Linked DNA regions of Homo sapiens. The protein of the gene in region 1 purifies or fractionates together with the protein of each later gene. This does not show direct contact. Each region holds a gene or a part of one and is shown in the gene's direction. Other genes may lie near its edges.

Region 1 (3,950 bases):
TGTATTTGCTATTTAGCCTAGAGGAGCTTTTCCCTGTGGCAGTGTTTCTCATATCAAAAATACCAGGGGACTCATATCAAAGATGCCAGGGCAGGAGGATATCTTGAGCCCAGGAGTTCAAGGGGATTGTTGAGTTCTTCTTTAGCATTCCTGACCCCCGGGCAAATGCCTTTAGTTCAGAATAGTCACTGTGGAAACCAGACTATTCCTTTTTATTTCTTTTTTTTTTTTTGAAACGAAGTCTCGCTCTGTTGCCCAGGCTGGAGTGCAGTGGCGCGATCTCTGCTCACTGCAAGCTCCGCCTCCCAGGTTCACGCCATTCTCCTGCCTCAGCCTCCCGAGTAGCTGGGACTACAGTTGTCTGCCACCACACCAGCTAATTTTTTGTATTTTTAATAGAGACTGTGTTTCACCGTGTTAGCCAGTATGGTCTCGATCTCCTGACCTTGTGATCCACCTGTCTCAGTCTCCCAAAGTGCTAGGATTACAGGTGTGAGCCACTGCGCCCGGCTTCCTTTTTATTTCTAAATGCCCCCTGAGGCAGTGTACCATCCCGATTAAGAAGTACTGATTATAGATAAATGATACTAAAAATCTTGAAAAGGGCATCCAGGTGAATATCTAAAGCTTTTGTGCTGATGGATCAGACATGGAATATCTAAGTAAGAAAATAGTTCTAATACACTATGAATTAGGAGACCCTTAGTAATCTTCAAAATACCAACTTTTCTCAGTTTGTTGTTTTTCTTTTTTGTATTTTTTAGAGAAAGGGTCTCACTCTGTTACCCAGGCTAGAGTACAGTGGCAAGATTGTAACTCACTGCAGCCTCAACCTCCTGGGCTCTAGTGAACCTCCTGTCTCAGGCTCCTGAGTAGATAAGACTGCAGGTGCATGCCACCACGCCCAGCTAATTTATTTTTTGTAGTTATAGGGTCTCACTGTGTTGCCCAGGTTAGTCTCAAACTCCTGGCCTCTAGCAGTCCCTCTGCCTTGGCCTTCCAAAGTGCTAGGATTACAGGTGTGAGCCAGCACACCTGGCCCCCTTGATTTTTTTTTTTTTTTTTTTTTTTGAGACAGAGTCTCGCTTTCTCGCCCAGGCTGGAGTGCAGTGGTGCAATCTTGGCTCACTGCAACCTCCACCTCCCGGGTTCAAGCGATTCTCCTGCCTCAGCTTCCCGAGTAGCTGGGATTACAGGCGCACGCCACCACGCCTGGCTAATTGTGTTTTTAGTAGAGACGGGGTTTTGCCATATTGGCCAGGCTGATCTCGAACTCCTCACCTCATGATCCACCCATCTGGGCCTCCCAAAGCACTGGTATTACAGGCGTGAGCCACCGTGCCCAGCCTCCCCCTTGAATTTTTTAAACAAATTTCTTAATTTTCTTGCAATTAGTAGATTAAAGTGGTATGTAATATTTCATCAAATCTAAGCCACTGTTTATTGCATAGTGCACCATTACTTTATTCATTTAAGCCATGGAGACATAAAAATGCTGCCAAACTGACCCACCATTAATTGTAATTAATTGTAATTCCAATTTCAGAGATGTTAAAACTTGTAAAAATGTGCATCTTAGAATTAGGGAGATAGAGTAGCTAGAAAACTATTGTCTCAGTTTTACTAGTAGTGTCAGTATCTTTAAAAAGTTTTACTTGATGTTATTTGATCTCCCCCCCCCCCCCCTTTTTGGATTAGCTTTCTTGTAAACTGGAGCGAGAATTCCGTTGTGTGGAACTTGCTGATCTAATGACTCAAAATGCTGTGAATTTAGCCATTAAATATGCTTCTCGCTCTCGGAAATTAATACTGGCTCAAAAACTAAGTGAACTGGCTGTAGAGAAGGCAGCCGAATTGACAGCAACCCAGGTGGAAGAGGAAGAAGAAGAAGAAGATTTCAGAAAAAAGCTGAATGCTGGGTAAGAAATAATTTAGTTGTTTGAATTTTCCTTTACTGTCTTGAATGTTAAGTTGGTCTTTGCATAGCTCTTTATTGAATAATATTATTTTCTCTTAGTTACAGCAATACTGCTACAGAGTGGAGCCAACCAAGGTTCAGAAATCAAGTTGAAGAAGATGCTGAGGACAGTGGAGAAGCTGATGATGAAGAAAAACCAGAAATACATAAGCCTGGTGAGATACATTTTCAAGCCCATAAATCATGAGAACTATCATGGATGTGGCTTTTCCCATTTTGCTTAACTGAGGGAAATTGAATACTCATACTTTTTTTCAGACCTCTTTGCTATCTGGTTGTTGTATATTGAGGATGACTATATTTTCCCCATTTACATTATATTGCTTTATTTTAATCTGTAGGACAGAACTCGTTTTCCAAAAGTACAAATTCCTCTGATGTTTCAGCTAAGTCAGGTGAGAAATATTTATAAATTTGTAATATCAAGGAAATTTTGCAAGTCATCTGCAAAGTGACACATCTACGCAAATACACCTTAACTCTTAAGGCCACTTTTGGTGTGTGTGTGTTTATGTTTTTGTTTTTTTAATCTCAGATGTTGTTTGTGAAGCTATGGTCATTTAACAGATGTTTATAAAATGCCTATTGAGTGTCAGGCATTTTACTTAATGGTGGATACAGAAGTCAAACAGACATGTGTGGTTGATCTCTGTTTTAATGCTATTTTAGCCCAGCTGAGAAGACAGATGTTGAAGACAGATCTGGGTATCACTGAGGAAGCATGCAGGATACTGGAGAAACAGTTAAAAGGAATTGAAGGCTGGGCGCAGTGGCTCACGCCTGTAATCCCAGCACTTTGGGAGGCCGGAGTGGGCGGATAACGAGGTCAGGAGTTCTAGACTAGCCTGGCCAACACGGTGAAACCCCATCTCTACTAAAAATACAAAAATTAGCTGAGGGTGGTGGTATGTGCCTGTAATCCCAGCTACTCGGGAGGCTGAAGCAGGAGAATCACTTGAACTCAGGAGGTGGAGGTAGCAGTGAGCCGAGATCGTGCCATTGCACTCCAGCCTGGGCAATGGAGTGAGACTCCATCTCAAAAAAAAAAAAAAGGAGTTGAAAATGGTTGCGTACAGGGAGTGGGCCTGGGGGATAAGAGAAGGTTGAAGTAAGGCACTGCTGGCCCTTTTTTGGTGGGGAGCATAAACCTTATAGTACCATTTGACTTTTTAAACTGTGGACATATGTTACTTTGATTTAAAAAAATTAACTTAAAAAACATGTAGAATATGAAAAGAGCGTATGACACATAGCTGTCATCTAGCCAGTGGTGGAGGATGGGTAGGGACTTCAAGGCAGGCCTCATGGAGTGTTTACAGCAGAGACCTGAAGGATGAATAACAGTCAGCAAGGCAAAGGTGCATGGGAACAGGAGCAGAAGAGAAGCATTTGGGCTTAAGGAACAGTATGTGTGAACTGAAGGCTGCAAAAGGGTGGTGTGAAAAGCTCAGAGAGCAAAGAGAAAGTGGTGCTGAAGGGTTTCGGAGTGATGGGCAGGAGCCAAGTCATGCAGATCTGTGTAGGCCATATTAAGGATTTTGGTCTTTTTTTTATTTTATTTTATTTTTTTTAATAGAGATGGGGTGTCACTCTGTTGTCCAGGCTGGTCTCAAACTCAAGCAATTTCCTCACCTCCACATCCCAAAGTTGTTGGACCTGCAGGTGTGAGCCACCACACCCGGTCAGGATTTTGCTCTTTATTCTAAGGTCACTGAGAGACTGTTGTAGGTTTTAAGCAGAGGTATAGCATGGCACACTGTGCTGAAGAAGAACAGATAATAGACTACTGGCCAGGTGTGATGGCTCATGTCTGTAACCTCAGCATTTTGAGAGGCCAAGGTGGAAGGATCACTTGAGACCAGACGTTTGAGACCAGCCTTGGAAACAATGAAACCCTATCTCTACAAAAAGTAAATAATAAAAATATTAGCCAGGCATGGTAGTACACACCGGTAGTCCCAGGTATTTGGGA
Region 2 (4,701 bases), on another chromosome or scaffold:
CGATCTCAGCTCACTGCAACCTCTGCCTCCCAGGTTCAAGTGATCCCCCTGCCTCAGCCTCCCGAGTAGTTGGGACTACAGGCACACACCACCACGCCCAGCTAATTTTTTTGTATTTTTCATAGAGACAGGGTTCACCATGTTGGCCAGGATAGTCTTGATCTCTTGACCTTGTGATCCACCTGCCTCGGCCTCTCAAGGTGCTGGAATTACAGGCGTGAGACACTGTGCCCGGCTTTTTTTTTTTTTTTTGAGACGGAGTCTTGCTCTGTTGCCCAGGCTGGTGGCACGATCTCCGCTCACTGCAACCTCTCCGCCTCCTGGATTCAAGCGATTCTCCTCCAGCCTCCTGAGTAGCTGGGATTACAGGCACATGCCACCATGCCCGGCTAATTATTATATTTTTAGTAGAGATGGGTTTCACCATTTGGCCTGGCTGGTCTCAAACTCCTGACCTCAGGTAATCCGCCCACCTTGGCCTCCCAAAGTGTTGGGATTACAGGCGTGAGCCACCGCATCCGGTGAAAAGTTTCTAATTTTTTCATGAAGTTTACTCTATCAACTTCTTTTGTGAATTGTGTTTTTTTGGTCAGATCTAAGAACTCTTCCCCAAGCTCTAGATGTGAGAAATTCTGTTTTCTTCTAAAAGTTGTATATTTTACGCCTCAGTCTGATCATTTTGTGTTAGAATTTGCATTTGCAGATAACATGATGGCCCATGTAAAAAATACAAGGATTTTACAACAACAACCGCAAAACACCAAATGAACCCTCAAACTAATGAGTTCAGCGAGGTCTCAGGATAAGAAAATCAACATAGAATTCATCACATTTGTGTAGACCAACAGTGAACACGTGGAAAACGTCAAAAACGCAGTGTTACAGTTGTTTGATGTGAAATACTATAAACTTAAAAGGTGCAGAATCTGTATGCTGAAATTACAAAATGCTGGTGGAAGAAATCAAAAGACCGAAATAAATGGAGGGGCCACCAGGGACGCAGATGAAGGACCGAGTCAGCGATGCCCGTGCTCCCCAAACGATCTGCAGCAGTTCCCATCAAAATCCCAGAAAACTTCGTAGACTGAAGCGTATTCCAAAATCCGCAGAGATGAGCGCAACATCACAGAGGACCCCGAGGCGCCCTCCAGGCCATTTCCTTCCTGACAGCTGGAAGAGCGGCCTGGCGGATGAGGGAAGGTGGAAAGCCGTTCCCCAGCGGCCAGCGGCCCGCGCCGTCCAGCTTTGCCCTTTTTAAAGGGGAAGCAAATAGGGTCCAAAGCAGCGTCGCCTTTGATCTGGCACCTGAAGCGCGAAGGGCGCCGGCCGGGTGGAGGTGCGGGGTTGGGGCGGGGACCCGACTAGGGCGGGCGGGGAAGTCACGCCCACACCGAGCTCGGCCGCGCCCATGCCGAGCCCCGGCCACGCCACTTCCGCCGGAAGCTCGGTTCAGCTTCCTGAAAGAGTTGGTCCTGCAGTTCCGGAAGTTGCGTTTCTACTAGGGAAAGGTCCGCAAACTCTTAAGGTCACTTTCTGAAGGCGGCCTCATCACAGTCGGAGGTGAGCTCGATCCGGACCCTGTGGGCAGAGGGTCCCCGGCCCTAGGGTGGCCACTTGAAGAAGAGGAGGACGTTCTCTGTTCCGGAACGAAAGTAGCGCGTGCAGGCTGTTTCCGGGGACCCGAGGCCGATGCACCGCTCGCCCCGCCCCTCTCACGGCCACGTCTCCGCCGGAGCATCCGGGCCGGGCGGCCTCCGGGGCTGCCAGAGCAGCAGGGTGAGGGGCTCGGAGGCCGCGGCGCCTCGGGGCTCGGGCTCCCGCTCCCGCTCCCGCTCCCGCAGTGCATGGGCGGGGGAGGCTCGAGGGGCGGCGGCGGGGCCTGGGCGCGTCCCTGCAGCGTGGCGGGACGGCCCCGTTCCAGTCACCCCCGCCTCGCTGCGGTGGCCTCGGGCCTGGGCGCCCGCCTTCAGCTGCGGCGGAGCTGGCTCTGTAAATGCCGGTGCCCGCGAGCCCTCCTGAATGCTTGTCTGCGCCCGACGAGCGCGGCCTGTCCCGAAGCTGTCCACTGCCACCACTCGGGCAGTGCTTGCTTTAGCCTGGCCCTTTGCAGCTGAAAGGCGTGACATGGTGTCGGGTGGTTCGTGGGAAGTCGGGGTTTCAGGAGTCCGTGTACTTCCTTGTTTGTCTTTGTCGCTGGCCGACTTGTCTTCATTCCAGGTGGCCAGAGCGAGTGGGGCCGGGCGTTGTCACGGGTATGAACCCGACGAATGTCAGTCGTGTGGCGGGTCCTGGGTATTGTGGGTCTGGGTCACTGCCCCCGCGGAGCCCACCTAGGACAGGGACACCCAGGGTCGCCAGCGAGAGGGTACCGGGCGGTGGTTGGGTGGGGTCCGCTACTCTAAGTGGGAGCCTGGGGGGCGGGCGACTTCCGTGCTAAGGCCTCTATGACGAGAAGCAAGCCAGGCAAAATTGTGAGAAAAGCGCGCCTCAGGCAGAAAGTTTGAAGACCCTGAGGGCGGAGGATGTGGCCACAGTGTAATGGCAAAGGGGGAAAGCGATGGCGGTAAGGATGTTGGTGTAGGCAGGTGCTGGATTCTTAAGAGGTTGGAGTTTATTGTCACTGGGCCAGTGTAAGCCATTTACAGATGACTCATGGATTTTTTTTTTTTTTTTAAGAGACTGGGTGTGTTGCTGTATTGCCCAGGCTGGTGTGGAACTCCTGGCCTCAAGCGATCCTCCCACCCCAGCCTCCCAAAGTGCTGGTGTTACAGGTGTGAGCAGCCACACCCGTCGTCGTGGATTATTTTGAACTGTCTTTTAAACGACATCAACATAGCGCTTTATAACCCTTTAATATCTTTTCAGGCAGTATACCTTAAATGGCAAGAAGGAAATAAATCATCTGACATCACTCAGATTGAAGAGGAGCTTTTTTTCCCCCGATTGCCTTAAGAAGTAGCATACTTTCCCAAGTGAGAATGCCTTCAGTTGGCTTTTAGCGATTTTGACAAGCAACAACTAAAGGGAAAATCGTGATAATTACTGTCATTTTATTGAGGACACGGGACAGACTCTGTGCCTTGTTATATTTAATCCTGGCAAAATTTTGCGTTCATTTTCTCATTGTTTTACTGGTGAGGAAACAGGCTAAATGTGATTAAGAAATCTTTAGCCCAGGCTCTCACAGGTAAGTGGTGGAGGGTCGGGAGCTGAGGCCGGAGTCCTGACTTCCAAGCCTGCCCTTCACGTCTCTGCAGTGACATGAGGCTTGCTTGCTTTTGGTTTTCACTTTGTGTATAGATCTGTGTTTACTTTTGGATACTAGTGTGGCCTCCACCAGGTACTCTTTTCCTGAGGAAATCGTGTTTGGTTTTTGGCTGTGCTCTGTTGTTTCTAATACCCGATAGGAACAGGTGAAACGAGGTGGTGTAGATGGAGCCGTGAATGTTTGTATACAGAATTCAGGTGTGGGGGAAGCAGAAAGTCCTGTAGGTGCCTGAGGTGGTGGTTTCTCAGTATGAAGTCCCTTGATGTTACCCAGCTGTGAACCTAGGGTTGTGTGTACCTTTCGCAGTTCTAAGTGACAGCTTTGTCCTGTCTCTTCTCTCTAGAGACGCAGGAGTGCGAGTGATCATAAGTGAGACTGATTAGACTGGCCTCTTTATTTAAAATAGAGCCATGTTTGTAGTACCAGCTTTCTGTGATGCACTGGCAGTTGCTCCTCCTCCTCGCTGCCCGGAGATCGCTTTTTGTCAGTAGTCTGAGGTAATGAGGCCCTGACGACTGAGTCATTCCAAATTTTAACTAAAAATCAAGCAAGACTGGGAATCGACCGAGACTGCCAGCTTATTGCCCTACAGGGAGAAGTATCACTGTCACCAAACTCCAGGCAGTTAGTGAATTCTCTCTCTGGTCCGGCTTCAGGAGGAGCTGCCTGTAAAGAGGGGCCGTCTTTGTGACTTACAGTCACCGTCATGGGGTCTCTGTTCTGGAGAGGTGGGCTGCTTGGACACCAGCAGGGGAATTAAGTGAGCAGAATCTGTGATTGCACTGGACTCAGCTCGGTGCGGTTGGCTGTCACCATGTTGGCGTGCCCTCTCGGTGGAACCTGAGCGTCTTTGGCTGTGTTCCTTCTTGGTCAGTGTAAGGCCCAGGCGTCGTCACTGTGGGCCTCTGCAGCAGTTCTCCTCTGCAGCAGTTCTCCTCTGCATGTTCCACCTGTAATGGCTGAGTCCAGTCCTGCTGGTCATCCCATCCTTCCTTCTGTTCAGGTGGTGGTGCCTGTCTGGGCCGTGGCCGTGATGCTGCTCTTCCAGTTTCTTTTTTTTTTTTTTTTTTGGAGAATGAGAAAATAACTTTATTTCATTGTGGGGAGCGGGCTGATGTCCAGCCTCAGAACTTCTGGAACTGCTTCTTGGTGCTGGCAGCCTTGGTGACCTGGAGCACGTTGAGGTGCACTGTCTTGCTCAGAGGCCGGCAAGGCCGGCACTCGCCCACTGTGACGATGTCACCGATCTGGACGTCCCTGAAGCAGGGGAACAGGTGTACAGACATGTTCTTGTGGTGCTTCTCGAAGTGGTTGTACTTGCGGATGTAGTGCAGGTAGTCTCGGCGGATGACAGTGGTCCTCTGCGTCTTCATCTTGGTCACCACGCCAGAGAGGATCCGCCCTCGAATGGAGACATCACCAGTGAAGGGGCA
Region 3 (3,950 bases), on another chromosome or scaffold:
TCCTTGAATTGCCTCGCATTAAAGAAAGTATTAATTGGTCATATTTTTAAAATATTTAATTTTCACTGGGTGCAGTGGCTCACGCCTGTAATCCCAGCACTTTGGGAGGCCGAGGTGGGTGGATCACTAGAGGTCAGGAGCTCAAGACCAGCCTGGCCAGCATGGTGAAACCCCTCCCATACTAAAAATACAAAAATTGACTGGGCGTGTTGGCTCACGCCTGTAATCCCAGCACTTTGGGAGGCAGAGGTGGGTGGATCACGAGGTCAGAAGATCGAGACCATTCTGGCTAACACGGTGAAACCCCGTCTCTATACTAAAAATACAAAAAAAAAAAAATTAGCCTCCCTACTCGGGAGGCTGAGACAGGAGAATGGCGTGAACCCAGGAGGCGGAGCTTGCAGTGAGCCACGATCGTGCCTCTGCACTCCAGCCTGGGTGACAGAGTGAGACTCCATCTCAAAAAAAACAAACAAAAAAAACAAATTAGCTGGGCATGGTGACAGACGCCTGTAATCCCAGCTAATCAGGAGGCTGAGGTGGGAGAATCACTTGAACCTAGGACAGAGGTTGCAGTGAACCGAGATCGTGCCACTGTGCTCCAGCCTGGGCGACAGAGTGAGACTCTGTCTCAAAAAAAAAAAAAAAAAAAGTTAATTTTCTTGGGCTAGGCACTATAGCTCACACTTGTAATCCCACTGCTTTGAGAAGCTGAGACAGGAGGGTCACTTGAGCCCAGCAGTTGGAGAGCAGCCTGGACAACATAGTGAGATCTCATCTCTACAGAAAATAAAAAACTTAGCTGGACATGGTGGCATGTGCCTGTAGTCCCAGCTACTCGGGATGCTGAGGTGGGAGGATTCCTTGAGCCTGGGAGGTTGAGGCTGCAGTGAGCCGAGACCACACCACTGCCCTCCAGCCGGGGCAAGAGAGTGAGGCCCTGTCGGAGAAAAACAATTTTCTTGTATTGTAATCACCTTTTCTCTTCTCCCCACCCCCCCGCCCCTTTTTGTTAATAGTTGGACAGAGAGACTCTGAAGATGTGAGCAAAAGAGACTCCGATAAAGAGATGGCTACTAAGTCAGCGGTTGTTCACGACATCACAGATGATGGGCAGGAGGAGACACCCGAAATAATCGAACAGATTCCTTCTTCAGAAAGCAATTTAGAAGAGCTAACACAACCCACTGAGTCCCAGGCTAATGATATTGGATTTAAGAAGGTGTTTAAGTTTGTTGGCTTTAAATTCACTGTGAAAAAGGATAAGACAGAGAAGCCTGACACTGTCCAGCTACTCACTGTGAAGAAAGATGAAGGGGAGGGAGCAGCAGGGGCTGGCGACCACAAGGACCCCAGCCTTGGGGCTGGAGAAGCAGCATCCAAAGAAAGCGAACCCAAACAATCTACAGAGAAACCCGAAGAGACCCTGAAGCGTGAGCAAAGCCACGCAGAAATTTCTCCCCCAGCCGAATCTGGCCAAGCAGTGGAGGAATGCAAAGAGGAAGGAGAAGAGAAACAAGAAAAAGAACCTAGCAAGTCTGCAGAATCTCCGACTAGTCCCGTGACCAGTGAAACAGGATCAACCTTCAAAAAATTCTTCACTCAAGGTTGGGCCGGCTGGCGCAAAAAGACCAGTTTCAGGAAGCCGAAGGAGGATGAAGTGGAAGCTTCAGAGAAGAAAAAGGAACAAGAGCCAGAAAAAGTAGACACAGAAGAAGACGGAAAGGCAGAGGTTGCCTCCGAGAAACTGACCGCCTCCGAGCAAGCCCACCCACAGGAGCCGGCAGAAAGTGCCCACGAGCCCCGGTTATCAGCTGAATATGAGAAAGTTGAGCTGCCCTCAGAGGAGCAAGTCAGTGGCTCGCAGGGACCTTCTGAAGAGAAACCTGCTCCGTTGGCGACAGAAGTGTTTGATGAGAAAATAGAAGTCCACCAAGAAGAGGTTGTGGCCGAAGTCCACGTCAGCACCGTGGAGGAGAGAACCGAAGAGCAGAAAACGGAGGTGGAAGAAACAGCAGGGTCTGTGCCAGCTGAAGAATTGGTTGAAATGGATGCAGAACCTCAGGAAGCTGAACCTGCCAAGGAGCTGGTGAAGCTCAAAGAAACGTGTGTTTCCGGAGAGGACCCTACACAGGGAGCTGACCTCAGTCCTGATGAGAAGGTGCTGTCCAAACCCCCCGAAGGCGTTGTGAGTGAGGTGGAAATGCTGTCATCACAGGAGAGAATGAAGGTGCAGGGAAGTCCACTAAAGAAGCTTTTTACCAGCACTGGCTTAAAAAAGCTTTCTGGAAAGAAACAGAAAGGGAAAAGAGGAGGAGGAGACGAGGAATCAGGGGAGCACACTCAGGTTCCAGCCGATTCTCCGGACAGCCAGGAGGAGCAAAAGGGCGAGAGCTCTGCCTCATCCCCTGAGGAGCCCGAGGAGATCACGTGTCTGGAAAAGGGCTTAGCCGAGGTGCAGCAGGATGGGGAAGCTGAAGAAGGAGCTACTTCCGATGGAGAGAAAAAAAGAGAAGGTGTCACTCCCTGGGCATCATTCAAAAAGATGGTGACGCCCAAGAAGCGTGTTAGACGGCCTTCGGAAAGTGATAAAGAAGATGAGCTGGACAAGGTCAAGAGCGCTACCTTGTCTTCCACCGAGAGCACAGCCTCTGAAATGCAAGAAGAAATGAAAGGGAGCGTGGAAGAGCCAAAGCCGGAAGAACCAAAGCGCAAGGTGGATACCTCAGTATCTTGGGAAGCTTTAATTTGTGTGGGATCATCCAAGAAAAGAGCAAGGAGAGGGTCCTCTTCTGATGAGGAAGGGGGACCAAAAGCAATGGGAGGAGACCACCAGAAAGCTGATGAGGCCGGAAAAGACAAAGAGACGGGGACAGACGGGATCCTTGCTGGTTCCCAAGAACATGATCCAGGGCAGGGAAGTTCCTCCCCGGAGCAAGCTGGAAGCCCTACCGAAGGGGAGGGCGTTTCCACCTGGGAGTCATTTAAAAGGTTAGTCACGCCAAGAAAAAAATCAAAGTCCAAGCTGGAAGAGAAAAGCGAAGACTCCATAGCTGGGTCTGGTGTAGAACATTCCACTCCAGACACTGAACCCGGTAAAGAAGAATCCTGGGTCTCAATCAAGAAGTTTATTCCTGGACGAAGGAAGAAAAGGCCAGATGGGAAACAAGAACAAGCCCCTGTTGAAGACGCAGGGCCAACAGGGGCCAACGAAGATGACTCTGATGTCCCGGCCGTGGTCCCTCTGTCTGAGTATGATGCTGTAGAAAGGGAGAAAATGGAGGCACAGCAAGCCCAAAAAAGCGCAGAGCAGCCCGAGCAGAAGGCAGCCACTGAGGTGTCCAAGGAGCTCAGCGAGAGTCAGGTTCATATGATGGCAGCAGCTGTCGCTGACGGGACGAGGGCAGCTACCATTATTGAAGAAAGGTCTCCTTCTTGGATATCTGCTTCAGTGACAGAACCTCTTGAACAAGTAGAAGCTGAAGCCGCACTGTTAACTGAGGAGGTATTGGAAAGAGAAGTAATTGCAGAAGAAGAACCCCCCACGGTTACTGAACCTCTGCCAGAGAACAGAGAGGCCCGGGGCGACACGGTCGTTAGTGAGGCGGAATTGACCCCCGAAGCTGTGACAGCTGCAGAAACTGCAGGGCCATTGGGTGCCGAAGAAGGAACCGAAGCATCTGCTGCTGAAGAGACCACAGAAATGGTGTCAGCAGTCTCCCAGTTAACCGACTCCCCAGACACCACAGAGGAGGCCACTCCGGTGCAGGAGGTGGAAGGTGGCGTACCTGACATAGAAGAGCAAGAGAGGCGGACTCAAGAGGTCCTCCAGGCAGTGGCAGAAAAAGTGAAAGAGGAATCCCAGCTGCCTGGCACCGGTGGGCCAGAAGATGTGCTTCAGCCTGTGCAGAGAGCAGAGGCAGAAAGACCAGAAGAGCAGGCTGAAGCGT
Region 4 (3,950 bases), on another chromosome or scaffold:
CGAGGCAGGTGGATCACGAGGTCAGGAGACGAGACCATCCTGGCTAACACGGTGAAACCCTGTCTCTACTAAAAATACAAAAAAATTAGCCGGGCATGGTGGCCGGTGCACAGGCACCGGCCTGGCACCAGGCCCAGGCTGAGGCAGGAGAATGGCGTGAACCCGGGAGGCGGAGCTTGCAGTGAGCCGGAGATCGTGCCAGGGCACTCCAGCCTGGGCGACAGAGCAAGACTCTGTCTCAAAAAAAAAAAAAAAAAAGAAAAGAAATTTATCACTGATAAATGCTTTACAATGATACTTAATAGTGTTTTTACTGGTTCCTTGCTTTTAATGGTATTCAATTCAGAGTCTTATATTGCAGTCATAGTGTAACTTTTTTTTTTTTTTTTTTTTTGAGACGGAGTCTCGCTGTGATATCTCCCTGACATTGTATTTAAAAAAACCTGTGTGTTATAGAAGGTTATATAGGGAAATAAAAGACCTAGTCCCTTAACCACAGGTAGTTTGAGAGGCTCTGTGCTAGACCATTTGGTCAGAATGACCTCTTAATAAAACTATTCGATATACATGACTGGCTGTGACGGAGTTTGTAGATAAGGATCCAAGACCATTTCAAGATTCTAGGCAAATGGCCCAGATAGCTTACAACCTGTAGCTGAAAGCACTGCCCTTTAAGTTGTTCCTCATCCCTGTGGTTATAGCTGTGAAGTTGCCACTTATTTTCAGCCCTGGATATTTGAGTGAGTAAGAATTAAATGAATTAAATTTGATAATGTAAGTAAGTAAATAATACTTGAGTATTTAATAAATGACAGCTCTTTTATTCCTTTATATTTTTCTGAATTTATTTTATTTTCAGGCTTAATAATTGCCTCCAGTTTTACATTTTTTCCCCTTTAATTTTTTATTACAGAATTGAAGATGTTCCTGCTCCTTCTACATCTGCAGATAAAGTGGAGAGGTAAGATTATTTACATGGTAGTTAGATTCGTATCAGAAACATAAACTAAGAGCAATATAACTTTAAAGTTATTTTTATTTTTTAATTAATTTATTTTTGATAGAGGCAAGGTGTCGCTTTGTTGCTCAGGCCGAAGTGCAGTGTGCAATCAGGGCTCACTACAACCTTGAACTCCTGGGCTCAAGCAATCTTCCCACTTCAACCTCCTGAGTAGCTAGGACTATAGGCACATGCCACTACACTTCGCTCATTTTTAAATTTTTTGGAGAGATGGGGTCTTGCTATGTTGCCAAGGCTGGTCTCAAACTCCTAGCCTCAAGCATTCCTCCCTGCCTAAGCCTTTCAAAGTGTAGGATTATAGGTGTGAACTACCAGGCCCGTCTCACCTCCTCCCCCTGTAACGTTTCCATCTTGATATGGCTATGGTTTTTTGTTTTTCTTTATCTCAGATCTACACCCGTAGTGACTATGTTTCTTAATCAGAGGTGGGCATAATAATTAACTAAAAAGCTTACCCAAAAGGTAGATGGTAGGTTACATCCCTAGAGATTTCTTGTTTCATTTTTTAGAGACAGGGTCTTGCTCTGTTGCCCAAGCTGGAGTTCAGTGATGTTATCATAGCTCACCACCACCTCGAACTCCCGGGCTAAAGGGATTCTTCTGCCTCAGCCTCCTGAGTAGCTGGGACTGTAGGCATGCACCACCACATCTGGCTAATTATTTTATTTATTTTTTAGACTGAGTTTCACTCTTGTCGCCCAGGCTGGAGTGCAGTGGCGCAATCTTGGCTCACTGCAACATCTGCCTCCTGGGTTCAAGCAATTCTGCCTCAGTCTCACAAGTAGCTGGGATTACAGGCGGGTGCCACTACACCCAGCTAATTTTTCTATTTTTAGTAGAGATGGGGTTTCACCATGTTGGCCAGGTTGGTCTTGAACTCCCGACCTCAGGTGATCTGCCCGCCTTGGCCTCCCAAAGTGTTGGGATTACAGGCGTGAGCCACTGTGCCCACCCGAATTATATTTTTCGAAGCGGAGTCTTGCTTTGTTGGCCAGGGTGGTCTCCAACCTGGGCTCAAGCAATCCCCCTGCCTTGGCTTCCCTAAGTGTTGGGATTACCAGCCTGATCTACCATGCCCAGCTGATTTTATTTGTTGAGCTTGAGATAAAATTTGGGTTCATGTGTTATGGAAAAGCTTTCTGATAAGATTGAGAATTATTACTGTTAGAATATCTTACAAATATTTTGTTTGTTTGTTTTTTGAGATGGAGTCTCACTCTGTCACCCAGGCTGGAGTGCAATGGCATGATCTTGGCTCACTGCAACCTCTGCCTCCCGGGTTCAAGCGATTCTCCTGCCTCAGCCTCCCAAGTAGTTGGGATTACAGGCACCCACCACCATGCCCGGCTAATTTTTGTATTTTTAGTAGAGACAGGGTTTCGCCATGTTGGTCAGGCTGGTCTCGAACTCCTGACCTCGGGCGATCTGCCCGTCTTGGCCTCCCAGAGTGCTGGGATTACAGGCGTGAGCCACCACACCCGGCCACAAATACATTTTTTAAGCGTCCATAGGGTTTTATGTTTTTCATGTTTGAAATCCTGTTGTCATCTTGGTTATTTAACCCTTTTCCCATTTGCCCTGAGAATACTTGCTGGTGGTGCTTGGGGCTGCTGCATTTACCCAGTGAAAACTGCCATGAAATAGCTCTCCTTTATTATTATTTTCACATCACTCTAATATATAGATTTTGGATAAAAAGACATCATTCTGTTTATAGCACTCTGTTTTTAGTAATGGTTATTTCCATTTACAAAATAGGGTAATTCTCGATTGCTGTAAATGTCAAATCCTAGAAAACGTAGCATTCCTATGTATGATGTTAACATCATTCTCAAATGGTTGTTGGCCAAAGATTCATTTGATGAATCCAATTTTTATGAAATAGGCGATTCTGATATTAGTTGTGTTTAGAAATAACTCCGGCCAGGCAGGTGGCTCATGTCTGTAATCCCAGCACTTTGGGAGACTGAAGTGGGCTGATCACTTGAGGTCAGGAGTTCAAGACCAGCCTGGCCAACATGGTGAAACCCTCTCTCTACTAAAAATACAAAAATTAGTTGAGCGTGGTGGCGGGCGCCTATAATCCCAGCTACTCGGGAGGCTGAGGCAAGAGAATCACTTGAACCTGGGAGGTGGAGGTTGCATTGAGCCAAGATTGTGCCACTGCACTCCAGCCTGGGTGACAGAGTGAGACTGTCCCCCCCCAAAAAAAAAAAAAAAAAAAACTCCGAGAACAGTTTTATATTTTTATTTTCATGCTGAAAGTCAGATTTGCTTCAGCTTCAAAGAACATGTTTATGTAAAATTAAATGAGTGCTGGCAATGAGCTGTACTTTTTTTTTTTTCTCTTAAACGGGAAAAGGGTTAAAATAAGTCTTATGAAATACTGCTTGGCTGGGTGTGGTAGCTTACACCAGTAATCCCAACACTTTGGGAGGCCAAGCAAGACCTCCATCTCTGAGAGGATCACATGACCCCAGGAGTTCGAGACCAGCCTGGGCAACATAGCAAGACGCCATCTGTACAAAAAAAAAAAATTTTTTTTTTAATTAACTGTTCGTTGTGGCACTTGCGTGTGGTCCCAGATACTGGGGAGGCTGAGGTAGGAGGATTGCGGAAGCCCAGGAAGTCGAGGTGGTGGTGAGCTATGATCCTGCCACTGCACTCTAGTCTGGGTGACAGAGTGAGACCCTGTCTCCAAAAAAAAAAGGAAAGAAACAAAATAGGGCTAGGCGCGGTGGCTCACGCACTTTGGGAGGCTGAGGTGGGTGAATCACCTGAGGTCAGGAGTTCAAGATCAGCCTGGCCAACATGGTGAAACCCCGTCTCTACTAAAAAAGATACAAAAATTAGCCGGTCGTGGTGGCTAGCGCCTGTAATTCCAGCTACTTGGGAGGCTGAGGCAGAAGAATCACTTGAACCCGGGAGG
Region 5 (3,950 bases), on another chromosome or scaffold:
ACTTGGGGGCAGCCCACAGGCCACTACCTGTAGTTAAAAAGGATGCCTGGTGGAAGTAGCTTGTCACCAGCAAATGAAAGCATGGATTGGAACATCTGAGAAAGAAGTAGCCTTTGGAGGACGATATCCCAGATTTGTGTGTGTTGACCGAATATTTACGAGTGCTGCACCCTAGCATTTCTCTTGTCTCTGTGGAGTTACCCTGTACTTCAGGAAAAAATGGTTTTCTTTTTTATTATTGTATTAAAACAGAGTTTAACCTAATATCACTGAGTAAATATTACGATGAGCCTATTTTTGTTCCCAGAAACATGGAATAATCCTAAATTCAGAAATAGCTACCAATGGAGAGACTTCCGACACCCTCAATAATGTTGGATACCAAGGTCCTACCAAGATGACAAAAGAAGAGTTAAATGCCCTCAAGTCGACAGGGGATGGGACCCTAGGTAAGTATTTGCTTTCCTTCGGCTCCTCACACCTTTCCACTCAGCATTGGTTCACCCTCCATGCACTGCTGGGGTTGGAGCCACCGTCGCTGATGGGTTAACAGTCACCAGCATGCCATTTGTTTCATCACTTCATGGTAATTTCCTTGCCCACCCGGTGTGGTCACCCACGTGTTGTCTGGCATGCATCTCTGTGTAGTGCACCATCAATGGCTCAAGTGAACCTTTTCTTTTGCTGCTCAAAGCTACCAAGCAAGACTGTGAAGGCAAAAGGAAAACAGTCTCAAAATTAAGTAACAATGTGGAGAGTACTATTTGGTTTTCCTCAGACACATATATATCTGTACCTATAAAGTGTGGCTTTTTAAACCGATTCTATGACAGAATTATCAAAAGATCAGAATGGTTGAGGCCGTCAAGTCAGTTGGCCATATTTGCAAGCCAACATCGACATCCTGGGCAGCATTCAGCGCTTTGAGGGTACGGGGTGCCTGTGGACAGCAGGTCCGTCTGTGTTGCCTTTTTCAAGCCACCGCTCGAGGTGGGCAGGCGGCCGTGGTAGTGGGTGTGGCGGTGCTGAGAGTCTGAGTATGCCCACCTTTGTCAGAGGGGATCCTCCTTTGTATGCCACGTGTTTGCTTCTGAAAGAATATAAAACTGGGGAATCCAGTAGATCAGAGGAATATTTTATACCATTTTCAATGATCTGATTTGTCATAATTTGTCATAAGAGTTGGCTTTGGGAGAAACCTTCAGATTCTGGCGTGCAGCCTGAAGTTGCAGCGTGCAAGTGAGGCCTCATCTGTCACTGGTCACCCTCTGCGTTCCAGTGTTTTACAAAGAGGCTGGAATAAGGTCAGGGTCCGTGACTTTTCATTTTAATGTAGAAGCTTTCATCTTATTTCTTTTTATTTATGGAAATGTAGACACCTCCAGGCCCCATCTTCTCAGGCCTCGCATTCCAGGGAGGTACCTCATTCATTATCTTTATGACTATTAAAGAAACACAGCTCTTTTCAATTGTGTAAAAAAAGTTGTGGCCTAGTGCAGTGGCTCACACTTCTAATCCCAGCGCTGCGGGTGGCCAAGGCTGGAGGATCACTTAAGACCAGGAATTCCAGGCCAGCCTGGCAACCTAGCAAGATTCCGTCTCTAGATAGGTATGTAGTATCTATATACCGTTGTTGAGAAAAGATAAATTAATCAATTTCCATCATACCTTTATATGAGCTACCCGAACAGCTAGGAATCTGATTACGCTGCTCTTACTCAAATACACATTTTATAAATCTTTGATAACCATTGTGAAATGTTGTAAGAACCAGAAATGTCAGTTTTGAAAGTGGCCTTCAAATGACTTTTGATCACATATTCCTTCAGCAAAGAATTGTAGGATCCAATATGTATGTTTATTTTAAATCTACATATGTATACTATTTCATTAATATAAAATGTACGTTATAAAATATATGCAAAGATATGCAAAGAAGTTTTAGAGTAAAACTCTAAATAGAATTCCTAATATTTCCCCCATTTTCCCTGGGATATGGGCACCCCACCATGGAGATCACTGGGCTATAAAATTATCTAGCTTTGACTTTCAGTAACATAGTACCATATCTAATCTGCTGGGGTTTTGTTTGGAGAGTCCAAAAATTCCAAAACAGTTTGATGTTCTTTAGACGATGAATAATTTATCATTTAATTTAGTGGTCATCTTGATCTTGAACATTTGCCTCCTGCTGGTCCTCTCTCCCTAGTCCCTTAGGGAATGGAGCAGAGGTATCAGGGCATGGACACAGGGTGTTTTCTCAGGAAAACAATAGTTGAGTGGCAGAAGATAGATTTCCTTTCATATGAGCTATTTCAAAAGCATCTTCCTTGAGACTGACCTTGAGGCTGCATTTCTAAAAGTGCACTGAATATTCTTTTTAAAAATTACTTGAAAGCTGCTTTTAGGGCTGTGTGACATGGAGTGCAGTTTGACAGCTGCAAAAGTACAAGTTGTCAAGTTGTTCATTGAGAAGTGAGAGTGGGGAATTGAACCTTCAGTCTGTTCCTAAACCCATCATTGTGGATTGTTTGGCTGCCTGATCCAGAGTTCTTTCTATTTGTTGAAACTTAACGTCACCTTTAAAAATCTGTCCACACAAGATGGCACCAGCAGCCACTCTGGCCTTTGATGTGGTGGCAGTGGCCCTCACTGACCCAAAATTTACTAATGCAACTGCTGCTTTGCCGCACAGAACTGGCAAAGGCTTGTTTCTCATGACTCTTTGATGACTCTGTCTTTAGGAATAGGGGTGGGTGGGATTTGGAACGTGTGTTTACATTCTAATGTAGATTATGTGGCCGCCACATCATGGGGTCCCTTCAATTTTCTCAATGGTCTTTTAGGAAGAGCCAGTGAAGTGGAGGTGAAAAATGAAATCGTGGCGAATGTGGGGAAAAGAGAAATCTTGCACAATACTGAGAAAGAACAACACACAGAGGACACAGTGAAGGACTGTGTGGACATAGAGGTATTCCCTGCTGGTGAGAATACCGAGGACCAGAAATCCTCTGAAGACACTGCCCCATTCCTAGGAACCTTAGCAGGTGCTACCTATGAGGAACAGGTTCAAAGCCAAATTCTTGAGAGCAGTTCTCTCCCTGAAAACACAGTACAGGTTGAGTCAAATGAGGTCATGGGTGCACCAGATGACAGGACCAGAACTCCCCTTGAGCCATCCAACTGTTGGAGTGACTTAGATGGTGGGAACCACACAGAGAATGTGGGAGAGGCAGCAGTGACTCAGGTTGAAGAGCAGGCAGGCACAGTGGCCTCGTGTCCTTTAGGGCATAGTGATGACACAGTTTATCATGATGACAAATGTATGGTAGAGGTCCCCCAAGAGTTAGAGACAAGCACAGGGCATAGTTTAGAGAAAGAATTCACCAACCAGGAAGCAGCTGAGCCCAAGGAGGTTCCAGCGCACAGTACAGAAGTAGGTAGGGATCACAACGAAGAAGAGGGTGAAGAAACAGGATTAAGGGACGAGAAACCAATCAAGACAGAAGTTCCTGGTTCTCCAGCAGGAACTGAGGGCAACTGTCAGGAAGCGACAGGTCCAAGTACAGTAGACACTCAAAATGAACCCTTAGATATGAAAGAGCCCGATGAAGAAAAGAGTGACCAACAGGGAGAGGCATTGGACTCATCGCAGAAGAAGACAAAGAACAAGAAAAAGAAAAACAAGAAGAAAAAATCCCCAGTACCCGTAGAAACCCTTAAAGATGTTAAAAAAGAGTTAACGTATCAGAACACAGATTTAAGTGAAATTAAGGAAGAAGAGCAGGTAAAGTCTACTGACAGAAAGTCAGCAGTGGAAGCCCAAAACGAGGTGACTGAAAATCCAAAACAGAAAATTGCAGCAGAAAGCAGTGAAAATGTTGATTGTCCGGAGAATCCTAAAATTAAGTTGGATGGAAAACTTGACCAAGAAGGTGATGATGTACAAA
Region 6 (3,950 bases), on another chromosome or scaffold:
AGAATAATTTGCCTGTTAAAACCAGAGCAAATGTCACAAAGTTTAATTTTTCTTCTCTTTTTTGGTGATTTATATTTTGGATTTATGCTTAGTGTTTTTTTTTCTACGTGTAGCATTCTTTCCAGAGAAAATCTTCTGGAAAATCCTCTTAAAAAGAGGATCCTGATAGTACTGCTCTTGGATTTTATTTCCAGGAAGATAGATAATAAAGAGTTGCTTAATCACAACCTTCAGTTCATACTGAAAATGCAACTTCCATCACTGTTTTCTTCACAGATAACTCATATCCTTTGTTAATAAAAGCTATACAATCTAGTTCACTCCTTCCTTTCCCATTTCTAATGTAAATTTGGATTCCTCTTAGAGTTCAGTTATTTGTATTTTTAGGAGTAATTTTAGATCCCACTTGATAAAGTGGGATTTATAATTCCATTATTTCAGAATCATTCTTTGAGATTATTATTAAATGTATTAACACAGCATTCACTGAGATTGTTCCATGTATTGCATTAAATGAAATTGCTCTCCCAAGGAATCCTATTATTATAATACTTTATAATATATTGTTTTTTAATTTACAGAGAACTTCCACATTACATTTTTTTAATTGACACATTGTAATTGAACATATTTATGGGATACAATCTGATGTTTTGATGCAGATATGCTGTATAGTAATCCAGTCAGGGTAGTTAGTATGTCTGTTGCCTCATGCATTTATCATTTTTTTGTGGTGAGAATATTTTTATATTTTGATCCTTACAACAATCAAGAGTGGGTAGGGCATGTATTATTATCCTTATATTACAGAAAATGTTTCTTAGGCTAAGTAACTTACCCAAAGTAATGTAACTAATATAACTAATAAGTAACAAAACCCGACCACATTCTTCATGTGATTTCATGTGAGCTAATAGAACTTACTTCTTTTTTTTTTTTTTTGAGACAGAGTCTTGCTCTGTCGCCCAGGCTGGAATACAGTGGCCCAGTCTTGGCTAACTGCAACCTCTGCCTCCCGGATTCAAGCAATTCTCCTGCCTCAGCCTCCTCAGTAGCTGGGATTATAGGCGCCCGCCACCGCACCTGGCTGATTTTTATATTTTTAGTAGAGACAGGGTTTCACCATGTTGGCCAGGCTGGTCTCGAACTCCTGACCTCAGGTGATCCACCCGCATTGGCCTCCAAATGTGCTGGGATTACAGGTGTGAGCCACCATGCCCAGCCTTTTTTCCCTGTTCTTAACCCTTAACTCCTAAAGTCATATAAAATATACGTTTAAAATTAACTGAAGCAAAGAATGTTGATAATTATTATAACTTCTGTATAATAAAATGTCATTGGACAAATAAATTAGTAGTAGTATGAGATTACCATATCCAAATTTGGGCTTTCGTCATAATTACCTCATAATTGCTTACAGCTATAAATGCAGGCTTCGAGTAGTAATTAATGCATATTAGTATGTATATGGTGACTTTACACTTTTTTTTCTAGGTTCCTGATCAGTATGGCACAATCAGAGCTGTAGCAGAAGGAAAGGCAGATCAATTTTTAGTAGGCACATCACGAAACTTTATTTTACGAGGAACATTTAATGATGGCTTCCAAATAGAAGTACAGGTAAGCTGTGTGATATTAACCGTTAACTGAATATTTTTTATGATATTCTTTGGTTCTTATAACAATGAGTGTCTTTCATTTTCAGGGTCATACAGATGAGCTTTGGGGTCTTGCCACACATCCCTTCAAAGATTTGCTCTTGACATGTGCTCAGGACAGGCAGGTGTGCCTGTGGAACTCAATGGAACACAGGCTGGAATGGACCAGGCTGGTAGATGTGAGTGAAGCAGGATGTGATTATTAACCTCCCCACAGAAACTCCTCACACTGGCAGTTGAGAGCAGCAAAGTAAAAAGGACTAAGTGTTGATTCAAACCAAATGTAAACATATGGTTTAGTAATAGAGGGTGGAGATAAGAGGGTAGCGTTTAGTCTTAAAGTGTGAACATGAACCGATTTTAAAGAAGTAAGTTAGGCCGGGCAAGGTGGCTCACACCTGTAATCCCAGCACTTTGGGAGGCCCAGGCAGGCGGATCACGAGGTCAGGAGATCGAGACCATCCTGGCTAACACGGTGAAGCCCTGTCTCTAGTAAAAATACAAAAAATTAGCCAGGCGTGGTGGTGGGCGCCTGTAGTCCCAGCTACTCGAGAGGCTGAGGCAGGAGAATGGCATGAACCCGGGAGGCGGAGCTTGCAGTGAGCCGAGATCGTGCCAGTGCACTCCAGCCTGGGCAACAGAGCGAGACTCCGTCTCAAAAAATAAAAAATAGAAGAAGTAAGTTAGCAGCGTAAAAGCTCAATTTGTCCATCAGCTTCAGTAGTAAAATCATAAAGATTTCAAATATCTACATAGCATTAATTATTATGGAAACATTTGTGCCTCGGGTGGCATTGCAGTTGGATTCAGTAAGTGCTGCTCACTAACAGGCTCTACTGTCTTCTTTCTGGGTGGTCTCTTACTGTATTTTCTCTCTACCCAACCCAGATATCCACCTTCTCTAGCCCAAGAGGTGTATATAAGTTCTTTGTGGATGCTAAAGAACTGTACCAGTGTTTGTTGTTATTATCCTTATTATTGTTCCACTCCCTAGCCACAAGCTGGTTGTCCCTTTCCCTCACCACTCTGCCAGCATATCCCCTTCATGCTCTGAAATTCTTTTTCCTCTCATATCTGTGTGGTATTTCTCATTAGCTACAAAGTTGATTGAAATGTTATGTTTGAATGAAACAGGTTATTTTCAGAAGTTTTTGCTACTGTCCCCATAGGGAGACTTTCTCATGTACTCCCCAACAGCTGTCTGTCTCTTTTCTAGGAACCAGGACACTGTGCAGATTTTCATCCAAGTGGCACAGTGGTGGCCATAGGAACGCACTCAGGCAGGTAGGGTCTTTAAGTGAACTGAGTAATCTGAAGTGGTGGGATGTTTAAATGCTATTCAGGAATGTTCTCAATCTGATCTGGAGAATTAATCTCTTAAGTGGCACACTAATATGCTTGTTGTTCTTATCCGTTTTGTATATTCATAGAATTCAATTATTTATTGAGCACCTGCCTTTTGCGACATGCTACATGCTATTGTGTGTATTCAGAATACATCAGAAAACAAAACAAAAATTCCTGTCCTGTGAAGCCTACATTTTAGCGTGTATGGGACAGAATAAAAAATAAGCCCTGACGCAGCCAGGCACAGTAATCCCAGCACTTTGGGAGGCCAAGGTGGGCGGATCACCTGAGGTCAGGAGTTCGAAACCAGCCTGGCCAATGTAGCGAAACCCCGTCCCTACTAAAAATACAAAAATTAGCCAGGCGCAGTGGCACACACCTGTAATCCCAGCTATTCTGGAGGCTGAGGCAGGAGAATCAGTTGAACCTGGGAGACAGTTGCAGTGAGCCGAGATTGTGCCACTGCGCTCCAGCATGGGCAACAGAGCAAGACTCCATCTCAAAAAAAATAATAAGGCGAGTTGCAGTAGCCCACGCCAGTAATTCCAGTGCTTTGGGAGGCTGAGGCAGGAAGATTGCTTGAGGCCAGGAGTTTGAGACCAGCCTGGGTGAGACACCATCTCTACAAAAAATAAAAATAATAAACATTATCACGAATTATATTAGAAAATGTTAAGAACCATGTGAGGATAGGGAAAATGATGGGAGATTAAGAGGGAGTGCAGTTGCAAAATGATAGAGTGGTCATTATGGGCTTCATTGAAAAGGAGTTGCAGATTTGACTTTTCCTTTGTGAAATGAGAAGAATCAGAAAATTTCTCTCCTCATCTTTTATGCAGGGGAAGGATTTGAAGCTGATGTAACACCATTGAGCATTTATAAGTTGTTTGTGCTATACCTTTTGCCATCCTGTCTTTTTTAAATGCTACGCAGATATATAATAAA
Region 7 (3,950 bases), on another chromosome or scaffold:
TTGAGTAGCTTACAGTTTAATATAGGAAAAGGAATGAACACATGATTGTGCTACTAAGAGAAATGCAAAATCTAAGTTTTCAGGTGAAATGCAAAGATGTATAAGGCTTAGTAGCTTTTGAGATTTAAAAAAACTAGAATAATGAAGGATTATGAAAAGTAAACCCCAGTTTCTCCGGTGGTCAGAGACTTGGTGATGTGCGGTACATTGGGTAGCCCAGCGGAGGGCAGTGATTAAGGGTTTTCCTTGAATGGTGGCTTTGGAATCATGCACATGTATAATGAGATAATGATGGGGCGCTCAAGCCAAACTTGGCAGAATTATTCTTCTAGATGGAGAAAGAGCTATGGTTTGGGTGGCCATGAATTATTTGTAACAGGTGGTTGCAGCTTTCAGGGACCTTCACAAATACTATCAGATTTTACATACATTTTAGGACTTCAGGTTAAAATCAATATAGGCTTTTAGAAACTACAGGTTTCTAATGTGCATTTTACACTGAAGACCTGCTCCTAAGCCACATCCTGCTTTGTAGAGGGAGTAAAACCTTTCTCTTCCTCTTTCTTTTTTACTTTTTCTTTAACCCCTCCATAGAAATAAACTTTCTTTTTTTTTTTTTTTTTGAGACAAAGCTTCGCTCTTGTTGCCCAGGCTGGAGTGCACTGTCACGATCTTGGCTCACTGCAACTTTCACTTCCCAGGTTCTAGTGATTCTCTTGCCTTAGCCTCCTGAGTAGCTGGGACTACAGGTGTGCATTATCACACCTGGCTAATTTTTTCTATTTTTAGTAGAGATGGGGTTTCACCATGTTGGCCAGGCTGGTCTCGAACTCCTGACCTCAAGTGATCTGCCCGCCTCGGCCTCCCAAAGTGCTGGGATTACAGGCGCGAGCTACCTCGCCCAGGCTTACATGGCCATTTTGAAGTGATTGGGTTCTAATAAAATAGTTTACAACTCTTCATAACATAGCTCTTCATAACATTGCCTTTTAATCAATTTTCAAAATTTTTATTGAACAACTATGGTGTGCACAAGACACCAGTCTGAATCTGTTGTAAGTTACATTATATACATTGAAAGATATCTACGTGGAAGCATAGAAAGTAGGTTTTACCTCTAGCTTGTAACATCAGAGTCAAAAGAAAAATGTTTGTATGTAAAATTAACCAAAATACATTTACTCAAGACTTGTTAAAAAGGCAGTGTTAGTAAGGTAAATATGTTCACTGACTTGTTGAAGTTGTGGCTGGTTGTTGGAGAAATGGCAAAGCAAGAGTTGCTTACATTTGAATGTTTTTTTTTTCTTGCCTACTTACTGAGGGAAGTGACAGGTTACTGAAGTGTTAGTTCAGCTTTTTATTAGCTTGCTTATTAGTGTGAAGTATGAATAAATCCATTGGAAAATTAAGCCTTCCTCGTAATTATTCTCTTTGCAGCTAACAAATTATTCAGTGACAGAACCTGGTTTTGCTGCCTCCTAGTATCCTCTCTGTCTTTATTTATTTGCTCTGGTGCTAATGAGAAATGAAGTATGTACAAGAAAGAGAACAGAGAAACCTGAATAATGCATATTGGTTAGCATAGTAAGAAGCCACATGTGGGCTGGGCGCGGTGGGTGGCTGACGCCTGTAATCCCAGAACTTTGGGAGGCCAAGGCGGGCAGATCACGACATCAGGAGTTTGAGACCAGCCGGACCAAGATGGTGAAACCCCATCTCTACTAAAAATACAAAAATTAGCCGGGCGTGGTGGTCCACGCAGGTAATCCCAGCTACTCGGGAGGCTGAGGCGGAGAATCGCTTGAACCCGGGAGGCGGAGGTTGCAGTGAGCCGAGATGGCGCCATTGCACTCCGCCCTGGGCGACAGAGCGACTCTGTCTCAAAAAAAAAAAAAAAAAAGAGCCACCTGTGTTGATTGTATGTCTTTTTTTTTTTTTTTTGAGACGGAGTCTCACTCTGTCGCCCAGGCTGGAGTGCAGTGGGTCGCACGATCTCTGCTCACTGCAAGCTCCGCCTCCCGGGTTGACGCCATTCTCCAGCCTCAGCCTCCGGAGTAGCTGGGACTACAGGCGCCCGCCACCACGCCCGGCTAATTTTTTTGTATTTTTAGTAGAGACAGGGTTTCACTGTGTTAGCCAGGATGGTCTCGATTTCCTGACCTCGTGATCTGCCCACGTCGGCCTCCCAAAGTGCTGGGATTACAGGCGTGAGCCACCGCGCCCGGCCGACTGTATGTAATTTTTTTTACCTGTGATTTTTAGAACCATGCCAGGCATATAATATACATTCATCTGTTGAATATGTTGACCCTGATCGTGGTGTGCACTTTCAAGAGGCAGCCGTTTGAGGATTGTCTACCAACTGTACTGGGAACAATGCCTGACTCTGTGTAGGAGTTCAATAAATATTTATTGGATAAATGAATAAATCCCTTTTTTTCCTTTTGTTTTAACATTTGCTTTTTAAAAATAATGGGAAGATAATTATAACACCTTTCTGCACTTCGGCAGTTGTAAAATATATATATAATTTTAGGTATCTTTTTGGAAAATAGACTATTTTTTAGAGCAGTTTCGGTTCATAGCAAAATTGAGAAGGTACAGAGATTTTCCATATCCTTTCTGCCCCCAAATACACACAGTCTAAGTACCTTTTTTGCCTTTAAAGTAGGGTTTGAAAAATTATCCCTTCTCTGTTGTTCATTCTACTTAGGCATGATATGTGTACATATCTTTATATAAGAACACTTTATAGTGTGTTGAATTTTTTTCCCTAGTGTGTCGAAATTTTAAACTAGTTTTTTAATCTTAAAGTAACAAATTATTAACAGTTCCAGGTATTGGATAATTATTACCTCTTCTTACTGCCCTTGAATGCTAAATTGGAGAACCCTATTAACAATCGTCCCTAGCTCTTCTACTGCTCTTTTTTCTTTTTTCTTTTTCGAGATGGAGTTTTGCTCAGTCACCCAGGCTGGCGTGCAGTGGCGCGATCTCAGCTCACTGCAACTTCTGCCTCCCAGGTTCAAGTGATTCTCATGCCTCAGCCTCCTGAGTAGCTGCAGGCCCCCACCACCATGCCCTGCCAATTTTTGTATTTTTCATACTAGAGATGGGGTTTCACCACGTTGACCAGGCTGGTCTCAAACTCCTGACCTCAAGTGATCTGCCTGCCTCTGCCTTCCAAAGTGCTGGGATTACAGGTGTGAGCCACCATGCCTGGCCTCTACTGCTCCTTTTTCTTTTTTTTTTTTTGAGATGGAGTCTCGCTGGGTTGCCCAGGCTGGAGTGCAGTGGCGTGATTTCGGCTCACTGCAAGCTCGGCCTCCCAGGTTCACACCATTCTCCCGCCTCAGCCTCCCGAGTAGCTGGGACTACAGGCGCCTGCCACCGCGCCCGGCTAATTTTTTGTATTTTTAGTAGAGATGGGGTTTCACCTTGTTAGCCAGGATGGTCTCGATCTCCTGACCTTGTGATCCGCCTGCCTCGGCCTCCCAAAGTGTTGGGATTACAGGCGTGAGCCACTGCGCCCGGCCTACTGCTCCTTTTTCTTAACCCTTCAGAGATTTCTGTTTGGGATGAACATGGCAAGACCAACAGGGGAGATAATACTCCCTGAACCATGGTGGGTAGGGCAGAACTGCTTCAGAAGAGAAACAAAATCAACTTAGTTTTGCCATCCTTACTTCTCCATGAGAACAAATTTTGCACATGTCTTTTCTGTTTAGTGGATATTAAAAGAAAACAAACCGTGGGAGGCCTGGAGATTTTGCAGTTGATATTTAGATATCAGTTTTGTTGCCCTCACTTTGTACATTAGACAGAATCCTGAAAATTTGTGTAAATTGCCATTTTGGTAGGCAAAACTGTACTTTAAGCACATAAAAGAGTTTTATAAGTGTCTATACTTACTATGTGAACACATTACAACTCATGCTTTACATTGGTGA

What was found.
Region 2: the proteins of WDHD1 (region 1) and GOLGA3 fractionate together in Homo sapiens (co-fractionation; one large-scale study listed by BioGRID). This does not show direct contact.
Region 3: the proteins of WDHD1 (region 1) and AKAP12 fractionate together in Homo sapiens (co-fractionation; one large-scale study listed by BioGRID). This does not show direct contact.
Region 4: the proteins of WDHD1 (region 1) and NASP fractionate together in Homo sapiens (co-fractionation; one large-scale study listed by BioGRID). This does not show direct contact.
Region 5: the proteins of WDHD1 (region 1) and LRRFIP1 fractionate together in Homo sapiens (co-fractionation; one large-scale study listed by BioGRID). This does not show direct contact.
Region 6: the proteins of WDHD1 (region 1) and EML4 fractionate together in Homo sapiens (co-fractionation; one large-scale study listed by BioGRID). This does not show direct contact.
Region 7: the proteins of WDHD1 (region 1) and FNBP1 fractionate together in Homo sapiens (co-fractionation; one large-scale study listed by BioGRID). This does not show direct contact.

What each region holds. Positions count from the first base shown.
Region 1 is NC_000014.9:54,960,921-54,964,870, reverse strand, and holds part of WDHD1 (WD repeat and HMG-box DNA-binding protein 1), read left to right. Parts: intron 1-1,698; coding exon 1,699-1,919; intron 1,920-2,017; coding exon 2,018-2,133; intron 2,134-2,319; coding exon 2,320-2,373; intron 2,374-3,950. UniProt on the Homo sapiens protein: Core replisome component that acts as a replication initiation factor. Binds directly to the CMG complex and functions as a hub to recruit additional proteins to the replication fork.
Region 2 is NC_000012.12:132,825,878-132,830,578, reverse strand, and holds the start of GOLGA3 (golgin subfamily A member 3), read left to right. Parts: upstream 1-1,709; 5' UTR 1,710-1,776; intron 1,777-2,189; exon of another isoform or gene 2,190-2,563; intron 2,564-2,676; exon of another isoform or gene 2,677-2,771; intron 2,772-2,865; exon of another isoform or gene 2,866-2,972; intron 2,973-4,341; exon of another isoform or gene 4,342-4,701. UniProt on the Homo sapiens protein: Golgi auto-antigen; probably involved in maintaining Golgi structure.
Region 3 is NC_000006.12:151,347,692-151,351,641, forward strand, and holds part of AKAP12 (A-kinase anchor protein 12), read left to right. Parts: intron 1-1,019; coding exon 1,020-3,950. UniProt on the Homo sapiens protein: Anchoring protein that mediates the subcellular compartmentation of protein kinase A (PKA) and protein kinase C (PKC).
Region 4 is NC_000001.11:45,590,310-45,594,259, forward strand, and holds part of NASP (nuclear autoantigenic sperm protein), read left to right. Parts: intron 1-913; coding exon 914-961; intron 962-3,950. UniProt on the Homo sapiens protein: Component of the histone chaperone network. Binds and stabilizes histone H3-H4 not bound to chromatin to maintain a soluble reservoir and modulate degradation by chaperone-mediated autophagy.
Region 5 is NC_000002.12:237,759,757-237,763,706, forward strand, and holds part of LRRFIP1 (leucine-rich repeat flightless-interacting protein 1), read left to right. Parts: intron 1-307; coding exon 308-449; intron 450-2,846; coding exon of another isoform or gene 2,847-3,950.
Region 6 is NC_000002.12:42,301,610-42,305,559, forward strand, and holds part of EML4 (echinoderm microtubule-associated protein-like 4), read left to right. Parts: intron 1-1,494; coding exon 1,495-1,620; intron 1,621-1,705; coding exon 1,706-1,837; intron 1,838-2,874; coding exon 2,875-2,942; intron 2,943-3,950. UniProt on the Homo sapiens protein: Essential for the formation and stability of microtubules (MTs). Required for the organization of the mitotic spindle and for the proper attachment of kinetochores to MTs. Promotes the recruitment of NUDC to the mitotic spindle for mitotic progression.
Region 7 is NC_000009.12:130,036,350-130,040,299, reverse strand, and holds part of FNBP1 (formin-binding protein 1), read left to right. Parts: intron 1-3,950. UniProt on the Homo sapiens protein: May act as a link between RND2 signaling and regulation of the actin cytoskeleton. Required to coordinate membrane tubulation with reorganization of the actin cytoskeleton during the late stage of clathrin-mediated endocytosis.